Linked DNA regions of Homo sapiens: region 2 is linked to region 1. Evidence: fine-mapped expression QTL. A gene starts in region 1. The other region holds a variant in brackets. All regions are shown on one strand. Distances are from middle to middle. Region 1 holds the start of ZNF224 (zinc finger protein 224). Region 2 overlaps ZNF225 (zinc finger protein 225).

What was found. PIP is the estimated chance that this variant, and not a neighbour inherited with it, causes the effect.
Region 2: its variant is the best candidate, but not a certain one, in a credible set for the expression of ZNF224 in whole blood (TOPMed, PIP 0.86).

What each region holds. Positions count from the first base shown.
Region 1 is chr19:44,092,580-44,096,984 of GRCh38, forward strand. ZNF224 (zinc finger protein 224) reads left to right here and starts at 1,782. Exons shown (of 6, transcript NM_001321645.3): 1 at 1,782-1,951; 2 at 3,764-3,852. RefSeq lists an enhancer at 1,592-1,701.
Region 2 is chr19:44,132,543-44,136,947 of GRCh38, forward strand. It overlaps ZNF225 (zinc finger protein 225), which reads left to right. Exons shown (of 5, transcript NM_013362.4): 5 at 1-2,280. The coding sequence ends at 193. Among named protein-coding and RNA genes, the nearest start is that of ZNF234, 6.8 kb to the right of the region's middle. The variant G/A (reference allele first, on the strand shown) is at 2,241.

The DNA.
Region 1 (4,405 bases):
AATCACTAAATTTCATATCTAGGTATATACCCCAAAGAATTGAAAGTAGGTGATGAAACAAATACTTGTACACCACTGTTTGTAGCAACACTATTGACTACAGCCAAAAGGTGGAAAGAACCCAAATGTCCCTCAATCAATGAATGGATAAACAAATTGTGGCGCAAGCCTGTAATCCCAGCACTTTGGGAGGCTGAGGTGGGCGGATCACCTGAGGTAAGGAGTTCGAGACCAGCCTGACTAACCTGGTGAAACCCTGTCTCTACTAAATACAAAAAAATTAGCTGGGTGTGGTGGCGCATGGCTGTAATGCCAGCTACTTGGGAGGCTGAGGCAGAAGAATCGTTTTAACCCAGGAGGCGGGGGTTGCAGTGAGCTGAGATCGTGCCATTGCACTCCAGCCTGGGCATCAAGAGGGAAACCCCACCTCAAAACAAAACAAGACAAAGCAAACAAAAAAAACAAATCGTAGTAGAAACATAAAATATTATGAAGTACTGGTACATGCTGTGATGTGGATGAACTTTAAAAGCAGTATGCTGGCAGGGCGCGGTGGCTCACGCCTGTAATCCCAGCACTTTGGGAGGCCGAGGCGGGAGGATCACGAGGTCAAGAGATCGAGACCATCCTGGCTAACACGGTGAAACCCCGTCTCTACTAAAAATACAGAAAAATTAGCCAGGCGTGGTGGCACGCGCCTGTAGTCCCAGCTACTCGGGAGGCTGAGACAGGAGAATCGCTTGAACCCGGGAGGCGGAGGTTGCAGTGAGCTAAGATCGTGCCACTGCACTCCAGCCTGGCACTTTTTTTGAGATTCCGTCTCAAAAAAAAAAAAAAGAAGCAGGATGCTAAGTGAAAGGTGTCAGAAACAAAAGGTTCCATAATGTATAATTCCATTTATATGAAATGTCCACAATAGGTAATTCAATAGGACAGAGATTAGTGTTAGACAGTGACTGCTTAGTGGGTATGGGGTTTTTGGGGTGATGAAAATGTTTCCTAACTTTTTATTTGTACTACATATATCCTAAAATGGTGAATTTCACGTTTTGTGCATTACACCTCAATAGAGATGTTTTAAATAATAAAATACATTAAAATGTTTTGCATAGATAAAACAATAAAAAAAAACGTTTTTGTTGAGAAAATATTTGCGAGATAAAATGTTAATATCATGAATATAAGAACAGTGCTTGAAAAGTGAGGGATAAAACCAAAAACTCAATAAGAAAGTGGGCAAAACATCTGGACAATTTACAAAAAATGTAATAATGACACCTGAAAATATGCAAGAATATGCCATCTTTACAAGAGTTATAAATTAAAACTACATGCCATTTCTTACCACTGGCAAAACTTATTTGAAGAGTGTATCATCTCGCTTGTTCCCTTTCCAGTAACACTCCTGTCCTCACTAGAGGGGTTTAGACTTCAGGAATTCCTTTCTATACGGTATTTTCTCTTAGGCACCCAGGGAGAGGGAAGGACGACTCTCAGGGTAGAAGTCCACATTTCCCAACAGGCGCTCGGGGGTACGAGATTCGTTCCCCGTGGGAAGAGTGGTCAAGGGCTTCCCAGTAGTCGTCAACACTTCCCTTTGAGTGTAATGCTGCAGGAGTACAGTCCAGACCCTCAGTGGAATCGCGGTCGGTTTAGCTCCGGCAGTTGGGTCCCAGGGAATTCTGGGAAGTGTAGTCCAGACGCTCAGTGGAGTCGCGGTCAGTTTGGCTCCGGCTGGCGGGTCCCGGGGAATTCTGGGAAGTGGAGTCCAAACATTCGGTGGAGTCGCGGACACTTCCGCTCGGGGACTGAGGTTGCTGCAGTTTTTCCGCGATAGTTTGGGGCAGTTCCGCGCGTTGCAGGCCCTTCTGAATTTCCTGGACCTACGCATTGGATCCTCAAAGAACTGGTGATCGAATTAGGGGAAAAGGGGCCTCGTCGGAGAGTAGAGGTTTGGAGGGGCAAGGGCCGCTGTTTGCGTTCTCGTCCGTGGCACCTTCTTGGGCTTGGGTCTGTCCTCGCTTCCCGGGGGCATTGGTACTTGGTTGGGTCGCGTCTCACCTGGTTTCAGGGTTTCCGGGGCTCTGAGCTCGCCCACTCCGCCCCCTGCACCCCACGCGCGTGGCCACTTCTTCTCGATATAACGTTGGGGTGTTAATCTCCTTGGGTTTCCCGTTACTGTTCTTTAAAATGGGGACTTTAGGGCCATCCTAATGGAATCGTTTTGGGAACTGGAAGAGGTAACACAAATGAGAGCCTTAAAGCAGTCCCTGTCACTTGGTGACTGGTGGTCTCTTGTTAATTTCCCACGAAGGACCGGGTGGGGTCAGAGCTCCAGCTGCAGGGGCCTCGGCCCTTCTCCCTGATCCCTGCAGGACGCTGGATGATCCCGGAAGCCTTCTGACCTCTTTTTAGGAGAGCGAGGGTTGCGTCCACTTTCATGAAGGGAAAGGAGCATTTAACTTTTATGGGGGACGGCGACGCGGTCAAGGTGTTTCACAGCTTTCTCGTTCCCCAACCCGACCTTTCCAGAAGAGCTGCAGGGAGGGACTTCTTGGCTTCTGAGGGCAAAGCTCTACGTGAGTGGTCCTTGGCTCTTTGACCGAGATGCTCACCCCAACCGAGAGTGTATAGGTTGTGTCCTCGGGCATGGGGGTCGATAATAATTAAGTCTTAATTAGTAACTTCATTCTAAGGGCTTTATACAAATAAATTTACGCCACACCGTGGCTCTGTGGAGAAGTATTGCTTTTTTCTATTTTAAAAACGAAAGTGAGACACAGAGCGCATAGGCACCCGACTAGTGAGAGGTGGAGCTGGGGTTGGAACCTAAGCAGTCTGGGTCAGAGCCTGATTTGATCTTCTCTTGGGATACGTTGTCACTGAGGCAGAGGAACTAGTTGGACTTAGGTGGGGAAAGCAAGACTTAGGGGCTTGAAATTTTCTGAGTTTCTAAAAATGTTGTCAACTATTTTGTTTCAATCATTACAAATATTTTGTATTCTTATAGAACCATGTCATTGTACAGCATTCTATTTTTCTTTATTAAGAACAAAATGGGCCTGGCGCGGTGGCTTACGCCTGTAATCCCAGCACTTTGGGAGGTCCAGGCGGGCGGATCACGAGGTCAGGAGTTCGAGACCAGCCTGGCCAACATGGTGAAACCGCATCTCTACTAAAAAATAATTACAAAAATTAGCTGGGCGTGGTGGTGGGCGCCTGTAATCCCATCTACTCGGGAGGGTGAGGCAGGAGAATCGTTTGAATCTGGGAGGCGGAGGTTGCAGTGAGCGGAGATCTGCCATTGCACTCCAGTCTGGGCGACAGTGCGAGACTCCGTCTCAAAAAAAAAAAAAAAAGAACAAAATGTTTTTATTACCTACGAATCCATGAAGTAAAGGTAGCAACTGTTAAGCTCGTAATGTGTTTCTTTCTTTTTGTATATTTATAGGTTTATTTATGAACATTTACAAATTTTTATAATTTTTTTCTTAATATTTCCCCCTTATGTGTTTAACTATGGAAATTTCCAAATGCTGACAGACTAAACTAGTGAATTATCATGTTATATCATACTCATTAATCTCATTATTGTTATTATTTTTCCTATGACTGTTTCCTAAAATTATAAAACTTTTTATTTTCATGTCATTTGAAACCTATAGAAAAGTTGCAAAAGTAGCCTAAGAAATTCTTATTTACTCTTTACCCACGTTTGCCAAGTGTTTACATTTTTCCTGTTTGTTTTGTTGATGACCATCAGCTGAATACCACTAGAAACATACCTGTAACCAGAGACAGCTGATTATAGCTTTCTGCAGCAAGGAAGCCCACGTACCAGGGGCTGTCTTGGTAAGTAGAATTTAGGAAGACCTAGTATATGGTTTCACATAACATATTAGATAATTTCAGATTGTATACCAGATAATGTTATTTATTAAATATTAGATATCTATCCAAAGACTGCTAATAGTAGTTTATTGTATTATCTATTATACAGTGCTAGATAACATATTACCTAACTTCATGTTATGTACTCTGCAGTTCTATATTTAAATTTGTTCTATTTTTCACTTAAGGTTCTTACAAGTGTCCCCTACCCATCTGCCACCACCACCTGTGTTCACAGTCTAATTTTATGCATTGCCTTTAATTGTCACATTTCCATAATCTTTAATCTTGAGGATTCTACACCCTTTGTCTTTCTATGCTTGATATTTTTGAAGAGTATAGGCAAGTTATTTTGGAGAAAGGCATTCATTTGGAGTTGTGTCTGATGTAATTCATGTGCGGGTTCACATTATGCATTGTTGGTAGGGATACCACAGAAGTGGTGAATTGCGGGTTCAGATTATGCATTGTTGGTAGGGATACCACAGAAGTGCTGAAATGTCCTTTTCATTGC
Region 2 (4,405 bases), 40 kb after region 1:
GAGACTCCACAGTAGAGAAAAACTACTTCAATGTGAGGACTGTGGGAAGAGCATTGTGCACAGTTCATGCCTTAAAGACCAACAAAGAGACCAAAGTGGAGAGAAAACATCTAAATGTGAGGACTGTGGGAAGCGCTACAAGAGGCGCTTGAATCTTGATACGCTTTTGTCATTATTTTTAAATGACACATAACTGTTGTACTCATTTATGGGGTACAGTGTGATAGTTAATGCAAGTATACAATGTGTAATGATCAAATCAGTGTAATTAACATACCTATCACCTCAAACATTTATCATTTATTTATGTTGGGAACCCTTAAAATTCACTGTCCTAGCTATTTGAAAATAATACGTTGTTAATTACTGTCACCCTGTAGTGGTGTAAAACACTAGAACTTATTCCTCCTACCTGCCTGTATTTCTGTATTCATTAACCAACCTTTGGCTACCACCCTGCCTCCTCACCTCTAAGAACTACTATTCTACTCTCTACTTCTATGAAGTTAACTTTTTGAGCTTCCACATATGTGTGAGAACATGTGGTATGTATCTTTCTGTGCCTGGCATATATCACTTAATATAATGCCCTGTAAGTCTCATTCACTTTGCTGTGAGTGATAGAATTTTGTTGTTTTTCATGGCTAAATAGTACTCTGATGTGTATATTTGCCCCATTTTCTTTATTCATTCATCCAGTGGACACTTAGGTTGATTACATACCTTGGCCTATTTCTTGGCTATCGTGAATGGTGCTGCAATAAACATGGGGGGGTGGAGATAACACTTTAACATACTGATTTCCTTTTCTTTGGATATGTACCAAGTATCATATAATAGTATGACATGACTCAAAATTAAGGAATAAGATTGTGGAAATTGGTTTTCAAAAAAAAATTCTCTAGTTTGAATATAGAGAAAAATTGGTGAGTGTCTTCAGCTGTCCTCATACATAATGCATGTGAGCTCGCTTTAAGCATAAGTGAAGGAGTGGAAAAATCCTGGAGATAGAAATCAAGGGGTATACATGTGGATGTAAAAAATCAACAAAGATTCTTTTAAGAAAAGGTGTGTATGGGTAGGGAACAATAGCATGACAGCAGTGCGGCCTCTAACAGTCTGGAACCAGTTAGGACAAAGAGCAGGATTGAGCGCCATTCCATTCATAGACACCGTGGTGATATTTTGAGTACATTAGGTTAAAAGGCTTTCTTCAGCAAAATCTATCTCTAGAGATAGATTTGATTTTTATAATCAAATCTACTAGAGATAGATTTGATTTTTATAATCAAATCTACCAGAGATAGATTTGATTTTTATAATCAAATCTACTAGAGATAGATTTGATTTTTATAATCAAATCTACTAGAGATAGATTTGATTTTTATACTTAATGTTCTAGACTGTATCTTTTCAGGATGCTAGGTACTTTATGAAGATCCATGCTGTCTCAATTTGCATAGTGGGTTGGAGGTCCCTAAGACAATCTCTCCAGATTCTATGATTTGCTAAGAGGACTCAGAATATAGTTGTACTCATGACTATATTATAGTGACAGGATACAAATAATCAGCAAAGGGAAAAGGTTCTTGTATAATATCTGGAGGGAATCAGATGTAAATTTGTAAAGATCCTTTGTGCATGGAGTAACAGGTCTCAATTCCTCCAGTATTGAATTGTGACTGTACTTGTGAAATGTCTACAATGGAAATTAATTATCAACCCGTACCAAAGGTTCTTATTGGAACTAATCATGTAGGTACCATCCCTCTGGTACATATCAAGATTCTAGACTCCAAGAAGGGGAGCAAGTGTTCAGAATAACTTGAACCATGCCTACCAGTTATGGAATGGTGGCAACCCTCTCAAACTCCGTGTTTCCTAACACCAGCTAAAGGCCAGTCTTATAAGCAGTCCTTTCTAAGATTTGCAGTCTCAGGCCTGTTATATTAACTTTTTGTGCACATAGTACTAGAAAACTGTTGGCTCAGTCTTCTTTTTGTTTTGTGTGTTTTGGTTTTTAACTGTCACCGATACCAGAATAGCTCATCTCCAAGGTAACTGTAACAGAACACTCAGCAGATTAAACAGAAAATACTTGCTTATTATAATTATTAAAAGTTTGGTAGGGTCTATGTCTGCTCTCTGGTGTGTCCTGGATCATCAACTTGGTTACAACATGGTGTTAACATGTGGGACTGATTGTGTTTCTTGTTAATATTTCTGTTTCTCCCAACCAC[G/A]CTGAATATTAAATACCTAGTTCTATATCTAGTACCCTGAGCTTATGTGGGGCTAATATTCTTTGCCATTTTTCACCACAGATTTGATTTCCTTTTTCTTTTGTGGACACTGGTGAGTTCCCTAATATAACTTTGACTTGGTTATATTTTCACAATCGGTGGGGATTATTACAGATTATCATCCTTCCTCTGCATTTGAAAAAGGAGGGAGGCTTCAAGTCAGGTTAGTTGACCTTCCTTTGTTGGTCTTATTATCCATAACATAATAAATAAATTGATGAGGATGGGCATGGTGGCTCACGCTTGTAATTCCAGCATTTAGGGAGGCTGAGGCGGCGTTTTAGACCAGCCTAGCCAATGTGGTGAAACCTCATCTCTACTAAAAATACAAAAAATATGCCAGGTGTGGTGGTGTGCGCCTGCAATCCTAGCTACTCAGGAGGCTGAGGCAGGAGAATCGCTTGAGCCTAGGAGGCGGAAGTTTGCAGTGAGCCAGAATCGTGCCACTGTACTCCTGCCTGGGTGATACAGTGAGTCTCCATCTCAAAAAAATAAGTTTATGAGAAGTCTATTAAATTGTTACATAATCTATATAGGTAGAAGGTTTCTATTTCAAGTGAACCAAAGTGTAACTTGAATCGTCTAATGCAGACTCACAGCCCAAAAATAAATTCCAAGACATGTCCACTTTACAAATCCACAATTCCTTTGATGGGGTGGGAGGGCAGTTCTGGATAAGGATGGACCCTGCTAGATTGCAAAAAATTTACAGCACTAATTTTTTCCCCAGAGATCTCCATAAGGACCTATGGTCATGAACTTCTGTGACTGTGTACTCAAAAAGAGAAATAATCACACATTTTGGCAGTGACTGAATTCTTGTTTTCAAGTAGGATAAATCCAAAGAGACTCACACTGAGACACATTATAATCAAAAAGACAAGGAACATCTTGAAAGCAGCAGCATGAAAGTGACTTGTCATGTACAAGAGATCCTCAATAATATCATCAATGGCTCTGGCCAGGTACAGTGGCTCATGCCTATAATCGCAGCACTTTGGGAGGCTGAAGCAGGTGGATCACTTGAGGTCAGGAGTTTGAGACCAGCCTAGCCAACACGGTGAAACCCTGTGTGTACTAAAACTACAAAAATTAGCCAGGCGTGGTGGTGTACACCTATAGTGCCAGCTACTCAGGAGGCTGAGACAGGAGAATCACTTGAACCTGGAAGGCAGAGATTGCAGTGAGCCGAGATCATGCCACTGCACTCCAGCCTGGGTGACAGAGGGAGACTGTCTCAAAAAAGAAAAAAAAAAAAAAAAAAAGATCATCAGTGGATTTCTCAGCAAACCTCCAAGGCCAGATGATGTATTAAAGTGCTGGAAAAAAACCTGGTATATTGAGGATTCTATATTCAGCAAAACTATACTTCCAAAATGAGAGATCAATTAATAACTTTTCAGAAAAACAAAAGCTGAGAGAATTGCCAGTAGACAAGTTATTCAAGAATTGAAAAGGTTGGGAGGCTGAGGCAGGCAGATCATTTGAGGCCAGGAGTTTGAGACCAGCATGGCCAACATGGTGAAACCCTGTCTTTACTAAAAATATAAAAATTAGCCGGGCGTGGTCGTGGGCGCCTGTAATCCCAGCTACACAGGAGGCTGAGGCAGGAGAATTGCTTGAACCTGGGAGGTGGAGGTTGCACTGAGCCGAGATTGTGCCACTGCACTCCAGCCTGGGCAACACAGTGAGACTCCATCTCAAAAAAAAAAATTGATAAAGGGAATCAATCCTTCAAGTTGAAATGAAAGGATTTTAGACAATAACTTGAAATCATATGAAAATATAAAGATCTATACTAAAGGCAATTGCATGAAGCAATACAAACAACATTATGATAGTAATTTTAGTTTGTAATCCCAGTTTTTATTTTCCATACAACGTAAAAGACAAATGCATAAAAATGACTACCAATCTATGTAAATAAGTACACGATATGTAAAGATGTACTATGAGATCAGTAACAGTGCGGGAAGGAAAGAGCTGTGAAGGAGTAGGGTTTTTATATCTGATTGAAGTTAAGTTGGTATCAATTTAAAAGACTGTTATAACTTTAGGATGTTACATATACTTTTGGTGACTATAAAGAAAATATCAATGAAACA